Linked DNA regions of Homo sapiens. The protein of the gene in region 2 interacts with the protein of the main gene of each other region in a biochemical or structural test. Each region holds a gene or a part of one and is shown on either strand. Other genes may lie near its edges.

Evidence for each region.
Region 1: the proteins of MAVS (region 2) and STAT1 form a complex in vitro, tested with the Homo sapiens proteins (one study listed by BioGRID).
Region 3: of the proteins of MAVS (region 2) and IKBKB, one has a biochemical effect on the other in vitro, tested with the Homo sapiens proteins (one study listed by BioGRID).
Region 4: the proteins of MAVS (region 2) and UBE4A form a complex in vitro, tested with the Homo sapiens proteins (one study listed by BioGRID).

What each region holds. Positions count from the first base shown.
Region 1 is NC_000002.12:191,006,787-191,011,355, forward strand, and holds part of STAT1 (signal transducer and activator of transcription 1-alpha/beta), read right to left. Parts: intron 3,664-4,569; exon of another isoform or gene 3,586-3,663; coding exon of another isoform or gene 3,581-3,585; intron 3,219-3,580; coding exon of another isoform or gene 3,218-3,218; coding exon 3,090-3,217; intron 2,358-3,089; coding exon of another isoform or gene 2,322-2,357; coding exon 2,177-2,321; intron 876-2,176; coding exon 777-875; intron 1-776. UniProt on the Homo sapiens protein: Signal transducer and transcription activator that mediates cellular responses to interferons (IFNs), cytokine KITLG/SCF and other cytokines and other growth factors.
Region 2 is NC_000020.11:3,859,460-3,864,561, forward strand, and holds part of MAVS (mitochondrial antiviral-signaling protein), read left to right. Parts: intron 1-1,872; coding exon 1,873-2,045; intron 2,046-2,794; coding exon 2,795-2,954; intron 2,955-4,796; coding exon 4,797-5,102.
Region 3 is NC_000008.11:42,305,618-42,310,186, forward strand, and holds part of IKBKB (inhibitor of nuclear factor kappa-B kinase subunit beta), read left to right. Parts: intron 1-725; coding exon 726-815; intron 816-3,283; coding exon 3,284-3,408; intron 3,409-4,569.
Region 4 is NC_000011.10:118,390,416-118,394,984, forward strand, and holds part of UBE4A (ubiquitin conjugation factor E4 A), read left to right. Parts: intron 1-241; coding exon 242-389; intron 390-2,322; coding exon 2,323-2,480; intron 2,481-4,569.

The DNA of each region.
Region 1 (4,569 bases), on a different chromosome or scaffold from region 2:
AAAACAATGATCAAAAATCTTGATACTAGTACAACTCTGACTCATTTACTGTTTGATGCCTTGAATATTTAATAGGTATCTTGATGTTGCTCAAAACAAAGCCCTTGATTTTCCCATCAGCCTCCTTTTCTCTCCACAAACCTATTGAGTCCTACAAAACTCCTGCCCCTGCCCCCTCCTTGCCTTCCCAGCTCCGTGTACAGCATTACCATTTTTCAAGGGGTTCTAGTAGCTGCTGTAGAGCCATCCTTGACTTTCTGCTCTCACTCCTGCATCTAATCCTTCAACATAAGGATCCTTCTATATTGGTATCACATCCAAAGCATAACCTGAATCTGTCCACCTCTTCCTACCTCCACTGATTCTACTGAGCGCAAGCTTCCACTGCCTCTACCTTGGACAGCTGCAAGAACCCTCTATCTGCCTGCTTCCATTCCTGTGCCAGCAACTCAGAGGCCTTTCCTGACCCTGATCTAAAGGAACAACCCCACTCCCAGCCACTCCATGAATTCAGCATGTTATCTTCTCAGCACTTTATGCTACCCAGAAGTATCTTGTTTATATGTTCTCTCTCCTCGTTAGAACTTAATTCCATTAGATTAGGATCTTTCTTAAAGCCTGGTTCTATAAAATCTCTAAATCTGATTCTCCCACTTCTTGGGGCTATAAAATTAGAGAGATATTCATCATTGCTTTGACATGGGCCCTAATAGTATTTGATGAATGAATACATTTTTATTTTATTACAGTTTATGTGTTCAATGAGAAAAAAGTACCTGATTAAATCTCTGGGCGTTTTCCAGAATTTTCCTTTCTTCCTTCAGACAGCTGTAAATGATCATAGACATCTGGATTGGGTCTTCCTGAAAATTATCCTAGATTTGAGTGGTTAGAACAAAAATAAATTAAAATGCAGAATGTTTACTTTATTGTGTATTGTAAGTTGATATGAATTTGTTTATATTCTCCGGGAAACCTCATCTCTCATCTATTAAATTCTATATAAGCTATGTTTGTTAAAATCAAAATATTTCTTTCACGAATTATGACAAAAATTGCTTTAACTTTCTAAGTGCAGGTACCTAACGTACTTTTTGATTTAAAAACAAGTATTTTCACATATGGTTCACATAATATTTTTACTTTAATATCTTTCCATATTTCTTAAGGCCAATTATCTTTGGTTAGGATCCCGAGACAATGCAAATGATATAAAAACTATACATGACATTCCTCAATGAATGCATCTGTTGGTCTAAGCTTTGAACTAGACCAAAGATATTCATCTAGGGTTTTCTGTTGCCATTGTCAAAGCTAGTTTGCAAAACACTACCAATAGCAATAATGGCTCTTTATACAGGTACATTCATGCAAGGTCTGTATGAGAACAAATTTCTGTAAAGTTAATTTGATTTCCCCACTCGTAAATAAAATCATAAATACATTCACAAAGGAAAAAAAACAACTTCCAATTACCTAAGCTGAAAAGTTCAGTTGTATTGTATGAAAGAAGAAAATGATAGCTTTCACCTCCATTAAAACAGAAAAGTTCTGTTATTACACAACATAAATATGATAGCCACCCCAAGGGCATGCTGGGAGTACATCTGAAGAACCCCTAAAACTCTATAGCATGTTCTCTCATGTCTGGATCTTTCTTTGACTTTCTCTTCCAGGAGAGGCCAACTCCACCAGAAGCAAGGCAAGGTGGAGTCTAGTTCCTGAAGTCACCTGACTTCCTTAGGTGAAAGTCAAACCTTTCCTGTTTTATTCCTCATTTGCATAGCAAGGACCTGAACCTAACCACTAATGTTCCCTGGAGCTTTAATGTATTACTATAGATCATTGCTCTTAAAATGTAGCCCCTTTTCTTTGGTTTAAATATTGACAATTTTTAGTAAAACAAAATTATAGCATCACATTTTTCTCAGGATTACTGATACCTAAGAGGTGATACATTTAACCCTAAAAATTCCTTCTGTGTTTATAAAATAAATTGGTATCTTATTTTACTTATGCTATATTTACTGATGCTGTAGAAAACATAAATGGAGTTAGTCTCTATTACTTCTCTAAATACCAATAAGTGTGTGCTCAATTGTATTTGCTGAATGAAGAAAACTGCCTTCCATAAACATGAGAACATTTCAACTAAAATACAAAAACCAGGTCATACCTGAAGATTACGCTTGCTTTTCCTTATGTTATGCTGTAGCAAGAAGTTATTCTCCAAAGAAAAGCGACTATATTGATCATCCAGCTGTGACAGGAGGTCATGAAAACGGATGGTGGCAAATGAAACATCATTGGCAGCGTGCTCCCTAGGAGATTTAACATTTACACATTTCATTCTAGAACTAAATGTCTATGTAAAACAGACAAAACAAATGTTGGTTTCCTTATTGAAATTATTAAAAATAATTTAAGTATTTTCTTAGGTTTATTTTCTTCTTTTGAAACTGACATTGCTTTTAGCAGCAGTTTATGTGGTATTTCTCTTATGTGCAATTAGCACAAAAAATTCTAAACTCTAAGAGATTGTGCATGACAGTGTTCATGGTGACTATCTCTGAAGGGGGAAAAGTCAACAGGGGACCCTTCACTTTCTATGTCAAATACTTTCAGGACGTTTTTAAATTAGCAAATAATAAATTTTAAAGTAGAACACCTATCAGTTAAAAAAAATCCCCTTAATTTTACTACCTTCTTCATATTTCTAATCAATGTTTAACCATTAATTTGGCTTTATTTCTTTTAAATTACTTCTTTCTATAGTCTGGATCCTAAGTTGGAAAATAATCGGTGTCAGTATTCCGTAACTTGTCCAAAGCATTTAGGAATATCTATCATAAATTAAATTTGGCAAAACTGTATAAAAGTGCTTAATGACTAATATACTTAACTTTGTTGAGACACTTTTTGGCTCAACTTTGTTGAGTCATTTTTTAAATCAACAAACTTTTCTACAACAAATAATTCCAGTGGCCATTGATGGAATTCATCTTCCAGTAAACATGGCCCCAAGTCACTTAATCAACCAGTACTTTTAAGGTGTAAACTTCTTCTTCTGTCTAGTGAATTTTCCTTACCAGTCTTGCTTTTCTAACCACTGTGCCAGGTACTGTCTGATTTCCATGGGAAAACTGTCATCATAAAGCTGGTGAACCTGCTCCAGGAATTTTGAGTCAAGCTGCTGAAGTTCGTACCACTGAGACATCCTATAGGGAAAAAGAATATACATTCTTTCTATGTATATGGAAACCATAGCTCCAAAGAAAGCCTTCCTAGCATCAGGTTGTACTCTTAAATATCTTGCTTAATCCAAAACATAGTTTGTCCCAGGAATATTTTATTTAAATGGCATTTATAGTCTAAAGCCTGTTTTTAATTGAGTTTGGGGATGAACTTTTTTTCTCCTCCACGAAACACATCTTCATGTCTTTGCTTATTGTCAACATATCAGGGCAGCCTTCTCTGGCCTCTTTTATTTAAACTGCAACCACCTCCCACCCTGGAAACATGCTCTCTCTTTTCCCTGGTTTATTTTTCTTCATAGTACTTACACCACCATCTGACCTACCACATATTTTATTTTCATTATTGTCTGTTTTCACCACTTGAAGGGATGGATGTTGGTGGAGGATTCTGTGCACTGGTGTATCCCTAGAACAATGTCAACCACATAGTAGGTATCCAATAAATATGCCTTTAAAATGAGTTTGTGATTTTATCAAATAAATACATGAAAAACATTATTTTAATTAGACTTGCTTTAAGACAAATCACAAGACTCTCCCAAAATTGCTCTCCTACAAATCACAGTACATTTGTAATTTAACTCAAATATTTTCAAACTTCTGTTTTATATTTATGATTCATATGGTAAAATTCATTATTTTTCTTATACACATTTAAAAAGATATATTTTCTTCTTTGCCTACTACAAACAATAAATCTGGCATAAAGAAGTAATGATTTTTAAAGATTAAAACATCATTAAATGTAATTTAAAAGGATAAAGTAACACTTAGCTTTTTGGATAACTGTTAAGTCCATTTTTACATAGTGATCCTAAAGATTCAAAATCACAACAAAAACTTGATATAAGCAAGTCCTAAAATTCATTAGGAAAACGGAGAGTCTCCCATGACCATCATGTAACTTAGGATTTATATCAGCACACAGGTGGCAATATGCAGAGCAGACACAAGTGAATCTTGTCCTGCCAGACCTCTGGGGAAGGAGTCTGGATTTTCAAGTAGGGCATGGAAGAGTGTGTATGCATACTTGTAGCCGAGCACATGTATGCAGGCATGAGGTCACGCCTACTCCACAAATGTCCTTCCAAAGGAGTGTGAGGAAATGTCTGGCCTATAAAGCTAGTTATCCTCATATATACCAGTAGAAACGGACCCAAGCCCAGCCCCTTGGCACTCCTGCTGAAGCAATTTGATTTTTCAGTTCAGTTTTATTTTACCTGAGTGGAAAAATCTGTGGCTGTCTCCCTCCCTGCTTGGTAACTAATAAGGATCTACCTAAAGCAGATATGCTGGACCGTCAGGCAATGGG
Region 2 (5,102 bases):
ATTGCGCCACTGCACTCCAGCCTGGATGACAGAGTGAGACTCCGTCTCCAAAAAAAAAAAACCCAAAAATAGTGATCCCCTGAATACAATGGCTGTGGTAGGGCCTGATGAGGGGTGGGGGCAAAGGGGAGGGGCTCAGGTGGCAGCATCAGGGCAGGGGTCAGTGAGCAATGATAGTCATGTGGAGGAGAAAGCCACTGGGTCCTAGGATGCCTGGGGACAGAGAAGAGTGACTGCTGACACGGCGTGGGTGACTAGAGACCCACGAGGCCCCCCCATACTCCCCTTCCTCCCTTGCTACCTTGTCCTCCATCTGCTCTCACCCTCCCACTCCTGCCCCCTTGCCAAGTGATGCTTGTCACTCCTTTTTTTTTTGAAATGGAGTTTCGCTCTGTCGCCCAGGCTGGAGTGCAGTGGTGCCATCTCAGCTCACTGCAAGCTCCGCCTCCCGGGTTCACGCCATTCTCCTGCCTCAGCCTCCCGAGTAGCTGGGACTACAGGCGCCTGCAACCATGCCCGGCTAACTTTTTGTATTTTTTAGTAGAGATGGGGTTTCACCGTGTTAGCCAGGATGGTCTCGATCTCCTGACCTCGTGATCCACCCGCCTCGGCCTCCCAAAGTGCTGGGATTACAGGCGTGAGCCACCAAGCCCAGCCCTGCTTGTCACTCTTGAGGAGTGGGCCCACATCAGAACAGCTTTTGGACCTATGGGTGGGGCGGGGGGTGTACCCAAGAGCACCCAAGCCTCTTTAATCATGAGGAGAACCCCCAATTCCTTTTTTTTTGAGACAGAGTCTTGCTCAGTCGCCCAGGCTGGAGTGCAGTGGCATGACTTCGGCTCACCACAACCTCTGCCTCCCGGGTTCAAGTGGTTCTCCTTCCTCAGCCTCCCTATAGTCCCTGATTCCTTCTATTTTTTTTTTTTTTTTTTGAGACGGAGTCTCGCTCTTGTTGCCCAGGCTGGAGTGCAATGGTGCAATCTCAGGTCATGGCAACCTTCACTTCCCAGGTTCAAGCAATTCTCCTGCCTCAGCCTCTCGAGTAGCTGGGATTACAGGCATGCGCCTCCACGCCTGGCTAATTTTGTTATTTTTAGTAGAGACAGGGTTTCTCCATGTTGGTCAGGCTGGTCTCGAACTCACGACCTCAGGTGATCCACCCACTTCGGCCTCCCAAAGTGCTGGGATTACAGGCGTGAGCCACCACGTCTGGCTTCTTTTTCTTTTTTTCCCCCGAGACGGAGTCTTGCTCTGTTGCCCAGGCTGGAGTGCAGTGGCGCGATCTCAGCTCACTGCAACCTCCGTCTCCCAGGTTCAAGCAATTCTTCTGCCTCAGCCTCCTGAGTAGCTGGGATTACAGGTGCTTGCCAGCACGCCTGGCTAATTTTTGTATTTTTAGTAGAGACGGGGTTTCACTATGTTGGCCAGGCTGGTCTTGAACTCCTGACCTCCTAATCCACCTGCCTTGGCCTCCCCAAATCCTGGGATTACAGGCATGAGCCATCGTGCCCAGCCCCTGATTCCTTCTTTTTTTTTCTTTCTTTTTTTTTTTAGACGGAGTCTCGCTCTGTCGCCCAGGCTGGAGTGCAGTGGCGCGATCTTGGCTTACTGCAAGCTCCGCCTCCCGGGTTCACGCCATTCTCCTGCCTCAGCCTCCTGAGTAGCTGGGACTACAGGGGCCCGCCACCATGCCCGGCTAATAATAATGTTGTATTTTTAGTAGAGATGGGGTTTCACTGTGTTAGCCAGGGTGGTCTCGATCTGACCTCGTGATCTGCCTGCCTTGGCCTCCCAAAGTGCTGAGATTACAGGCATGAGCCACTGTGCCCAGCCCTGATTCCTTCTTGATATCACTACATCTTTGTCCTCTAGGGACCTCGGACCGTCCCCCAGACCCACTGGAGCCACCGTCACTTCCTGCTGAGAGGCCAGGGCCCCCCACACCTGCTGCGGCCCACAGCATCCCCTACAACAGCTGCAGAGAGAAGGAGCCAAGTTACCCCATGCCTGTCCAGGAGACCCAGGCGCCAGAGTCCCCAGGAGAGGTCTGTCCTCATAGTCTACCTTGAGCCACCACTTTTGTGTTCCTATCTGCCCACTTCTGCCCATTGAGCCTTCCAGAAACCCTCTCCCGTCCCCTATAAATCACGCCTAATCTCTGCTCAGAACCCTAGGGCTTCCTCAGTGGGGATCTGCCCCAGACCAGCTTCCAGGCTGCTGACCAGGTCTTCACCCTGTGGCAGCCCTAATCCTCTGTCAGCAACCAGCTGGGAGACCACAGTTTTGTGTGTGTGTGTGTGTGTGTGTGTGACAGTGTCTCATTCTGTCACCCAGGCTGGAGTGCAGTGGAGTGATCTTGGCTCACTGCAACCTCTGCCTCCTGGGTTCAGGTCATTCTCCTGCCTCAGCCTCCTGAGTAGCTGGGATTACAGGCACCCACCACCACGCCCAGCTAATTTTTGTATTTTTAGTAGAGATGGGGTTTTGCCGTGTCAGCCAGGCTGGTCTCGAACTCCTGACCTCAGGTGATCTGCCCACCTTTGCCTCCCAAAGTGCTGGGATTACAGGCGTGAGCCACCGCACCTGGCAATGCTGTGTGTTTTCTGTGAGGTAGACGTAAGGACACCTGTGGACAGAGGGTCTGGGAATTACCAGAACCCAGGCAAGGGCTCCCCTGGCTCCTGTGCTCCATGGTGTGGGCTGAGGCCTATAGGAGATGCCCCAAGAGCACAAGCTGCCCTTTGTGAGCTCTTGGGAGAGGCAACTGCCTTATTCATATTTTCCCTCATTGCAGAATTCAGAGCAAGCCCTGCAGACGCTCAGCCCCAGAGCCATCCCAAGGAATCCAGATGGTGGCCCCCTGGAGTCCTCCTCTGACCTGGCAGCCCTCAGCCCTCTGACCTCCAGCGGGCATCAGGAGCAGGACACAGAACTGGGCAGTACCCACACAGCAGGTATGCATGGAATCTGGAATTATAGGGTCCTTCTGATCTCTCAAGTGAGGGTAAGAATTAGAGTTGCCCCATCTGGCTTCCTTGAACAGGAGACAAGGTGGGAATAAAGGGAGTTCAACCCAGGAAGCAAACCAGTTCCTTAGTGGGTGTATCAGTTAGCATTTGCTGTGTAACAAATAGTCCACTCCAGTTTTCCAAATTTTTTTTTTAGTAGCTTAAAATACAGCCATTTATTTAGCATATGATCCTGTGGGTCAGGCATTTGGGCTACCTACATGGGCATTTCTTCTGGTCTTGGCTGAATTTCCTCTCAAGTACTCACCGGTATATACATAAGTTCTGCCTCTGGCTGTTTGCTGAGCACCTTGGTTCTCTTCTATGTAGTCTCTCATCCTCCAGCACACAAACCCATCATGGCAGCTGGGCAGAGTTCTCAGAGAGGGCTCAAAACTGGCACAGTGTCCCCTGTGCTCCATTCTGTGGGCAAAAGCAAGTTATAAGGCCAGCCTAGATTCAAGGAGTAGGGAAATAGACTCCCTCCCTAGACGGGAGGACTGACAGGCACAGTGCAGTGGGGCTGGGTGGAGATGAGCGAGATAAGTAGGGCCATTTTTGCGCTCTGCCAAAGGGACTGTAGGGAACAGCCAGGGCCTATAGGGCAGTGGGAGAGGGACAGTGAAGGGCTGCATCAGCTGTTGGCAGGGGAACCTTTAGGCACTGTCTTACCGCAGAGATCTCCAGTTCCCAGTGAATCATGAAAACTTCTCAGTCCCCAGAGGAAGTAAGGTCTTCATCATCCAGTGGCCTGGACTCAACTCCAGATGTCAGTGCTCCCCCTCAGAAATATATAGTTGTCCATCTGGACCTCTCAGGCCAGCATGTCTCTTTCCTACTTCCCAAACTATTCCACATGACGCTGGTGCCCAGTCAGCCCTCAGTGCCCTGGGACAGCCACAAGACACATGAGCAGTTAGAGGCTGGGAGACGTCATCTTAGTACTTTTGTCATCCCCAAACTGCTCCAAGCACCTGTCTGCTTTGCAGTGTCACCTGGCCACGGGATGCCTTTCAGGAGTTGCTGTAGACCACAGAGGCAGAGGGCGCTTAGGTTTCAGTACGTTTGTAGACACAGGTCCCATGAGATTCTGTGGTATTAGATTGTGGTGGGGGAGCTGTACATCAGAATCACCCTGACTTTTGCCAGCTGTGGGGCTTGGCATGTGCATTCCGAGTTCCGTGGAGAGTCCTGCTGCAACTGCCTTTACAGACCATCACCACCTGCTATCCTCTGCTTCCCCCACCCAGGTCAGGCAGCCTCCCAGGGGTGGCTTTGTCCTTGTCCCCTCTCTTCCCAAGCCTCCGGGATGGCCAGGCCTCTCGGCTGGTGTGAGCTGTTCTGCATGAGCCATCCTGCCACCCCTTGCCCTGATCCATGGCTGCTCCCACTCATGGTGGTAGGAGAGGGACAGCAGTGGGGGAAGTGTCCAGGATTGCATGAGGCTAAGGTCAAAGTAGAAAAGGTAGACACAGGAGAGGGGAGGTTTCCCAGGTGGGAGAGGAAAAAGCGGAGAGAATAATTAATAATGGTCTTCAGGCTCCTAGGTACCATTTCACTGTGTGCCAGGACAGACCTGGGGCTACAGGTCAAGGACTGAGGGCAGCTGTTGGGCTTTCAGGCCAGGAAGCAGTGACCAAAGGGACTGTGGCATCTCCTCCAAGGGCAGGAGATTTGGAGGCCTAGACACAGTAGGGACCATGAGATCTGGGCCAGAGGGACCCTTCTCCAGGCCTCAAGGTAATGGTCTTTGGGTCTGTGTTTCCACTTGTGTTTTTCCACCGGCAGGTGCGACCTCCAGCCTCACACCATCCCGTGGGCCTGTGTCTCCATCTGTCTCCTTCCAGCCCCTGGCCCGTTCCACCCCCAGGGCAAGCCGCTTGCCTGGACCCACAGGGTCAGTTGTATCTACTGGCACCTCCTTCTCCTCCTCATCCCCTGGCTTGGCCTCTGCAGGGGCTGCAGAGGGTAAACAGGGTGCAGAGAGTGACCAGGCCGAGCCTATCATCTGCTCCAGTGGGGCAGAGGCACCTGCCAACTCTCTGCCCTCCAAAGTGCCTACCACCTTGATGCCTGTGAACACAGTGGCCCTGA
Region 3 (4,569 bases), on a different chromosome or scaffold from region 2:
AAATGGAAACCAGTGGTCAGTTGGTTGTGGATGTGGCTGGGAAGAGGCACTGGGAGCTGGCCTCTGCTGCCAAGCCTGGTCCAGCCTATAGTTTCCCCAGAGCTCTTTGTGGCCTCCTCAGTGGCCACCCGGCTCAGACGTGGTGTTGACTGCCCCACAAGCTTGACATTGTGGTCTTTACCCACCCACTCTATGTGTTCAGCTGGGGTGGTGAGCACAGGCTCAGCTGAGTGGAATACAGTGAATGAGTTCTTAGATCACCTAATCCCTTCCCATACAGCTGCCCTTAGCACCTAGGCCTGGCCTGTGACTACCACAGGGCTCGCCCTTGTTCCAGTTCACCCTCACTCCTGTCAGTGGTGCTCAGATTTGAGAACTGAGGGCATTTACTGAGAAGAGGCTGGCCCGGTCCTTCCTGTTTCAAGTCTGGGTTTAGCTGTCTTGAGGGCTGGTGCCTGTTCTGTTCATTCAGCTTCCCTCTGATGATGCGTGGCAGAGTGTGGGAGGACACGTGCCTAGCATTTTTACAATATGCCTTTTCTTTTAGCCCTGAATCTACCGTGTCGAGGGCATTCTTTTGTGTATCTGGTGGCTCTTAGGAGTTTGGGATCTAATAGTACCTGGGAATTCAGAAATACCTCTGCTCTAACACCAGGCAGTCAGAATCCTCGTAGAAGGACATTGTGTTCTTATAACCCTCAGCTTTCTCCTTCCTTTTGTTTTAGTTAATACACAAAATTATTGACCTAGGATATGCCAAGGAGCTGGATCAGGGCAGTCTTTGCACATCATTCGTGGGGACCCTGCAGTACCTGGTAAGAAGTGGGCCTTGCCTGTTTGCCTGTCAGCTCCTCCCTGCTGCTGCATTTGTGGGGCTCCTGTCCTGCCTTGCTCCCAGCACCTGAGTCCCACCGGCTCTCTGAATGTTTTGGAGATGCATGAGGTCACACCCATAACCTGGTCGAGTCAGCATTTTTTGCCACCAGATGCCCTGTGGAGGGATGTGGTCGTCTTCTCTGATGTCCGGAGGGCTCTGCTCATGCGCCTTGCACCATCCCCTAGCCTCTCTGTGCTTCAGTGTCTTCTCTGAAAGGAAAGGGTTTTAAACAGATCCATGCTGGTCTTGAGCGGTCCTCCCACCTCAGCCTCCTGAGCAGCTAGGACTACAGGCAGGAGCCACTGAGCCTGGCCGAGGCCACACTTTCCATGAGGTATTTCAGGGGCCACTGAGTAGGGGTCAGAGCTCTGAGCTCCCCACCCTTTGTTTACGTTATTTGGTCTGAATATTAGGTTTCTGTTTGAGTCACTCATTCATTCAAGCATATTGATGGAGTGTAGTCTGTGTCAGGCACTGTGCTCAGGGCTGGTGATGCAGTGGGGAAAAAAGACAAGCCCTTTTCGGCCTTCAGAGCTTAGGGTTTAGCAGGAAAGCAAGCATTACTGTGATGCTTACACAGATAACTAAGAAATTACAGTTGTGGTGAGTGTTACAAAGCAAGAGTGCAGGGTGTTGCAAGAATATATATTGGGTGGCCTCAGCCTGGTCTGGGACTTGAAGGGTAAGGAGGTGAAAAGGGCTGGAGGTGGGGGACGGCAGGGGGAATTCCGTGCAAAGGGATCACACACAGGAAGACCTGCAGGTGTGGCTGGAACCGAGCACAAAAGGGAAAGAGAGTCTTGAGTTGAAGCTGAGAACAAGGTAGAGCACAGATTATGAAGGGCCTTCAGGGCTGGGCTAAAGTTCTAGACTTTATCTTAAAACCTCTGCAGAGATTGATGGGTTTTAAGTGGGAGAAGGAGCAACTCTTTGGAAAGCCCACTCCTGACACTGTGTGGAGAAGGAATCACACTGAACAGGAGGGAAGAGTGGGTGAGGTAGGGGCAGTGAAGATGTAGAGGGCAATTAGATTCCAGGAGGGCTTAGCACAAATGCCCAGCAAGACTTGTCATAGGTTGCTTGATGATGGCAGTAGCCACCACAATTGGGAGTGACTCAAGGAGTCTGCGGCTTTCAGAGTGGGTCTCACAGAGGGCTGTGATTCAGGCGCCTGTGTCCATATGGCATGTGATTTGGTAGATCCTTCTGGAGTCCTCCTCAGCTCAGCAGCAGTCGAGCAAGGGGGACCCCATGCTCTAACCAGGAGCTGAGTCAAGTCATGTACTCACATGAGCTAAAACGTCTGCCCATAACCAGACATAGAGGTTGACCTACCCATCCCGGAATGTCTTCTCTTGGTTTGGTCTCCCGGGCCCTTCCTTAAGCTTCACATTTCCAACCAGACCATGCACCACCCTGTCTCTGTGCTTTTGCTTGCCCCAGTCATTTCTGTCTCCACCCACCTGCTAAGCCCAGTCTGCACCCCCAGCACCCCGTGCTGCCGCCCCTTCTTCGGTCACCCCAGCGCTCTCTGCCTCAGCAGCAGCCATGCATCACACTTTCCCTGCCTGTTTCTAAATATCCTGGCCCTTTCTGCAACCACATGGTACCTGGTTCAGGGGTTCAACCAGCACTTAATGCGTGTATTTGGTGTGGACAGCCTGGCATCATTTTCCTTTAACATTTGTAGCCTCTCTTCCCATTTCTACACAGTGCCCACGACTGTGTCCTGCCTTAAGCTAGTTTTCAATAAGCGCCTGAAATGCTGCAACCCTTTTTTTTTTTTTCCTTTTTTTTCTTTCTTTCTTTCTTTTTTTTTTTTAGACAGAGTCTCACTCTGTTGCCCAGGCTGGAGTGCAGTGGCATGATCTTGGCTCACTGCAACCTCCACTTCCCAGGTTCAAGCGATTCTTGTGCCTCAGCCTCCTGAATAGCTGGGACTAAAGGTGCACACCACCATGCCCAGCTAATTTTTGTATTTTTAGTAGAGACGGGGTTTCACCATGTTGGCCAGGCTGGTCTCAAACTCCTGACCTCAAGTAATGCGCCTACCTCGGCCTCCCAAAGTGCTGGGATTACACGTGTGAGCCACTGCGTCCAGCCTGCAACCCTCAGTTTTAAAGGAGAGAAGTTAAAGCCTAGCGATGGGTGTGTGATGTACTCTGGCCCTGAATCTTTAGCCCCTCCATCAGTACCTACTGGAGTGAGTGGGACATAGAAAGGTCTTAGAAATGGTAGCATGATATACCCGCTAAACATGCCTGGGGTGCCCTCCTCGCCCTGCATGCATGTGCCAGTGCCCTCTAGGATGAAGCCAGGGGTGAAAGCAGATGGGCTGGCCGCCCCCTCCTGCCGTGGTCCCCCCAGAGAGGAGCAGCTCAGGTGTACCCCCTCCTGTTGCTGCAGGCCCCAGAGCTACTGGAGCAGCAGAAGTACACAGTGACCGTCGACTACTGGAGCTTCGGCACCCTGGCCTTTGAGTGCATCACGGGCTTCCGGCCCTTCCTCCCCAACTGGCAGCCCGTGCAGTGGTGAGTGGGCCCGGGGCACCTGGATGGAGGAGGGAGCCTGTCTGTTCCTTTCTCTTCACGTACCCTGTTTCCCTGGCGCCCCATCACCGGGCCTGGGAGATCTGTGTTGTTTCTCTTCCGAGAGGAAGGCCTGTCAGGACCTAGCACGAGTAGGGGAGTGGTCTGTGCTCCAAGGACCTGTTAATAGATAGAGTAGCTGTTAAGTCTTCATGTGGATTCTGAGCCTTCACATCTTTAAATACAATGCTGTGTCAGTGTCATCTGCTCTGTGTTCAGAAGTAAGACTATTGTATGAATATACGCACTTACACTGAGAATGCTGTGTGTTAGTAAACAAATAAAACACGTGTACACATGACAAGTCAGGAGGAAATATGTGAAAATTTGTTGTTGACAAATGTTACTACAACCTGAATATAAATTTTTGTTTTTAAAGCGTAAGAATGTGGCCGGGTACAGTGGCTCACTCCTGTAATCCCAGCACTTTGGGAGGCCGAGGCAGGTGGATCAGTTGAGGCCAGCAGTTCCAGACCAGCCTGGCCAACATGGCAAAACCCTGTCTCTACTAAAAACCCTAGCCAGGTGTGGTGGCGGGCGCCTGTAATCCCAGCTACTCGGAAGGCTGAGGTGGGAGAATTGCTTAAACCCAGGAGGCAGAGGTCGCATCACTGCAATCCAGCCTGGGCGACAGAGTGAGACTCTGTCTCAAAACAAAAAAAGTTTAAAAAAAAAAAAAACAACAGCTGAGCATAAAGCATAAGAATGTAGCTGAAATTGTGAACCTAATAAATTACACAAAAATTTTTCCAGTAAAAATTAAAGGATATGATGAAGATTTGTAGAATTACCCTGTATTCTTTAGCTTTTGTTTTACTGATTAAAGAAATAATGCATTGTGCAGGATATGTTTATATAAAAGTTAATTATCACCACCAAAAATGGTATGTGAGGTAATGTATATGGTAATTAGCTCAATGTAGCCATCCCACAATGTGTACATCATGTTGTACAGGATAAATATAGACCATTTTTATTTGTCAGTTTAAATCAAGAACTGGGGGCAGAAAAGAAATAAAAGTTAATTATTACTGAAAGCCATAATTTAAAAATGAATATTCCCCCAAATCAGTTAGATTTCATTTAGGATTGTTCCTTGAGAGG
Region 4 (4,569 bases), on a different chromosome or scaffold from region 2:
TTATATAATATAATTTTATATAATTATAATAAAATATATATTATATTTTATTATTATAAATAATAAATAATAAAATAATATTTATATATTATAAATAATATATATTGAAATAAGTCTTTCTATATCAAAAGAATGTTCATGGCTTTTAAGTGGTGAGAATGCTTGTTCTGCAGCCTACCTATTGTCTCTTCCATTGACCAACCCTCTGGTGATCAGTTTTTTTCTGATGCTAATGTTCCAGGGATGAGGAGAATTTCTGTGCCACTGTGCCCAAGGATGGACGTTCCTATTCCCCAACTCTCTTTGCACAGACAGTTCGAGTCTTGAAGAAAATAAATAAGCCTGGGAATATGATTATGGCTTTCAGCAACTTGGCAGAGAGAATCAAGGTGAGGAAGAGGAGGAATTGTTTGCTGATTTCATTAAGAACCACGTTGTCAGCCAGGCATGATGGCTCAAGCCTGTAGTCCCAGCTACTTAAGAGCCTAAGGCTAGAGGATCACTTAAGCCCAGGAGTTTGAAGCTGCAGTGTGCTATGATCATGCCTGTGGATAGCCACTACACTCCAGCCTTGGCAAGATAGCAAGACCCCATCTCCTAAAAATCCATGCAAAAAAAATCAGATTGTCACCTCAGCTGTGCTGATTTTTACTCTATTTCAGGGAGAAAAAGAGCATTACCAAGAGAAAATATAAACAGATGGTTCTTTTTGGACAGTCACTTAGAACTACAATATTCTTAGTTTTATTCTTGTCAACATGAGAGTGAGAATAGAAATTTAAGAAATCGGCTGGGTACAGTAGTGGCTCATGCTTGTAATCCCAGCATTTTGGGAAGCCAGGGTGGGCAGATCACTTGAGGTCAGGAGTTCAACACCAGCCTGGCCAGCATGGTGAAACCCTGTCTCTACTAAAAATACAAAAATTAGCTGGGTGTGGTGGCAGGCGCCTGTAATCCCAGCTACTCGGGAGGCTGAGGCAGGAGAATCGCTTGAACCTGGGAGGCGGAGGTTGCAGTGATCGCAACCACTGCACTCCAGCCTGGGCAACAGAGCGAGATTCCATCTCAAAAAAAAAAAAAGAAAAAAGAAATTTAAGGGCCAGGCGCGGTGGCTCACGCCTGTAATCCTAGCACTTTGGGAGGTCGAGGCGGGCAGATCACAAGGTCAGGAGATAGCGACCATCCTGGCTAACACGGTGAAACCCCATCTCTACTAAAAATACAAAAAATTAGCCGGGCGTGGTGGCAGGCACCTGTAGTCCCAGCTACTCAGGAGACTGAGGCAGGAGAATGGCGTGAACCCAGGAAGCAGAGCTTGCAGTGAGCCAAGATAGTGCCACTGCACTCCCGCCTGGGCAAAAGAGCGAGACTCCATCTCAAAAAAGAAAAAAAAAAAAATTTAAGAAACCTCAACTAGAAGAGAAGAATGTGCACATTTATGTAAGATGTTTTTATGAAAACGTTTATGCACAGTGTTACCAATAGATTTTAAAAGCTAGGGTGTTAATGCAGAATAACTTTTTAGAAAAAAAAAAAGATGAGTAGTTTTCAGTCATTAATTTTTATTTGGATTGTCTCTATGTTTGTAGTTGGTAGTTGGCTTTTATTGGAATATGCATACATTTTAAAGATTAAAATACTATATTGTATTTAGCTAAATCCCTTTGGTTAGAGTATGACAGAGCTCTATTAGCAGGTAAGAAGAAGGAAGATCATGGCACAAAAGTCTAATAGAAAACCTTCCTTATTGCTGTCAGTCTTCCCTCTATTGAGTTTCTTTTTTATTGAGTTGGACTTCATCTTTGTTTAGAGCTTAGCCAGGTGGATCCCTGAGGAACTCAAGTTGTGAAGGAATTAAATGTCAAAATGACTTTAAAATTCCTATACCTGTTTGTATCAAAAATCAAAAACTGCTTTTCATACGCAGGCTGCATGAGTGACTCTAATTATGCAAATAATACCCTCCTCCATTCTCCCTTCTCCATCCACTTTTGAATTATGGCATTTACAACAGAACTGTTGCCAGATGGATGTTATATCTGATGTATTTCTTTTCCTCCTAACATTTAAACCCATTTCCAGTATGACTGCCAGCAGCTGAGCCAACCTAAAGGTCCAGAGTTGGGGCTCAATGCTTAATTTGTTCTTAGAATATCTTGGCTTGTTTTTGAGAAAATGAAGCTCACGTGTGTCACTGTCACTGTCAAGGGTTATTAATGACCTGTTTTTTTATTTTTGAGATGGAGTCTTGCTCTGTCATTGAGCACGCTGAATTCAGCTACACTGTGAATTCACTTTAACTACCAGATGTTGTATACTCAGTCTCTTGCAGACCTCCAACAACAGGAAGAGGAAACCTATGCAGATGCCTGTGATGAGTTCCTGGATCCCATTATGAGCACACTGATGTGTGACCCTGTGGTGCTGCCATCTTCCAGAGTCACTGTGGATAGATCCACCATTGCAAGACATTTGCTCAGGTAGGCCAGTCCCAAAAACAGACTCAAGAGCATATATATATATTAGTTTGCTATCTTTTTCTCCCAGGCACCTAAGACAGTACTTTGCACCCAACACATACCACATATTATTGATTTACTGATATGTTGGAAGACATTTTGGTTTCAATTGCTAGGATATAAACATTTCAAAACAAAACATTCTGTTGAGAAATGCTAACTCTAACCTCACCTCTTCCTGCCTTAAGAAAATAATTTCTGGCCGGGTGCAGTGGCTCATGCCTGTAATCCCAGCACTTTGGGAGGCCGAGGCAGGTGGATCACTTGAGGTCAGGAGTTTGAGACCAGCCTGGCCAACATGGTAAAACCCCGTCTCTACTAAAATACAAAAAATTAGAGGGGCATGGTGGTGCGCACATGTAGTCTGAGCTACTCAGGAGGCTGAGGCAGAAGAATTGCTTGAACCCAGGAGGCAGAGGTTGCAATGAGCCGAGATCGCACCACTGCACTCCAGCCTGGGCTCAGGTGATCCTCCTACCTCAGCCTCTGGAGTAACTGGGACTACAGGCATGCACTAACACGCCCAACTAATTTTTGTATTTTTTGTAGAGACAGGGTTTCACCATGTTGCCCAGGCTGGTCTTGAACTCCTGGGTTCAAGCGATCCAACCGCCTCAGCCTCCCAAAGTACTGGGATTACGGGTGTGAGCCACTGTGCCTGGCCTGTTTTTTTATTTTTGCGACAGAGTCTCGCTCTGTCACCAAGGCTAGAGTGCAGTGGCGCGATCTCAGCTCACTGCAAGCTCCGCCTCCCAGGATCAAGTGATTCTTCAGCCTCAGCCTCCCGAATAGCTGAGACTACAGGTGAGCACCACCACATCTGGCTAATTTTTGTATTTGTAATAGAGATGAGGTTTCACCATATTGGCCAGGCTGGTCTTAAACTCCTGATTTCAAGTGATCCTCCCACCTCAGCCTCCCAAAGTGCTGGGATTATAGGCATGAGCCACCTCACCCAGCCTGCTTTTTCTAATTCAGGTTTTACACTATATTCACCATGTGGATTAACTCACGTTCTGTTGCTGTTGTTGTATCAGCTGTGGTAACCATGAACTTTCCCCAGCCTGCCTATTCTTCGGACAGTCTGCCCCATTATAACTATAGAAAAGACAGGAATGAAGCAATAAATGGTAGCTTATTAGCTGCTTAATGGGCCCCTTAACTTTTTTTAGTCCGGCATTAGAAAGAAATGAGTACTGAGAGACTCTGCCTATTTATATATTTATTTATCTATTTTTTTGAGACAGGGTCTTGCTCTGTCACCAGGCTGGAGTGCAGTGGCATGATCTCAGCTTACTGTGGCCTCACCCTCCCAGGCTCAAGCAACCCTCCCATCTCAGCCTCACCAAGTAACTGGGACCACAGGCCATGCACCACTGTTCCTGGCTTATTTATTTTTGTATTTTTTGTAGAGAAGGGGTCTCTCCATGTTACCCAGGCCAGTCTCAAACTCCTGGGCTCAAGCAGTCCACTCACATCAGCCTCCCAAAGTGCTGGGATTACAGGCATAGCCACCTTGTTTGGCCTCTCCATATTTAAAATTAAGTTATATCGAGCCAGGCACAGTGGCTCACGTCTGTAATCCCAGCACTTTGGGAGGCTGAAGCAGGTGGATCACTTGAGATCAGGAGTTCGAGACCAGCCTGGCCAACATGGTGAAACCCCGTCTCTACTAAAAATACAAAAATTAGCCGGGAGTGGTGACACATGCCTGTTGTAATCCCAGCTATTTGGGAGGCTGAGGCAGGAGAATCACTGGAACCTGGGAGGCAGAGGTTGCAGTGAGCCAAGATCACACCACCGCACTCCAGTCTGGGTGACAGAGCGAGACTCGTCTCAAAAAAAAAAAAAAAATTAAGTTATATCTCTACAAAAAATTATTTTTAATTAGCCAAGTATAATGGCACATGCCTGTAGTCCTAGCTACTCAGGAGGCTGAGGCAGATCGCTTGAGCACAGGAATTCAAGGCTGCACTGAGTTATGATGGCAGCACTGCACTCCTGCCTGGGCAGCAGAGCAAGACACCGTCTCTAAATAAACAGATAGATA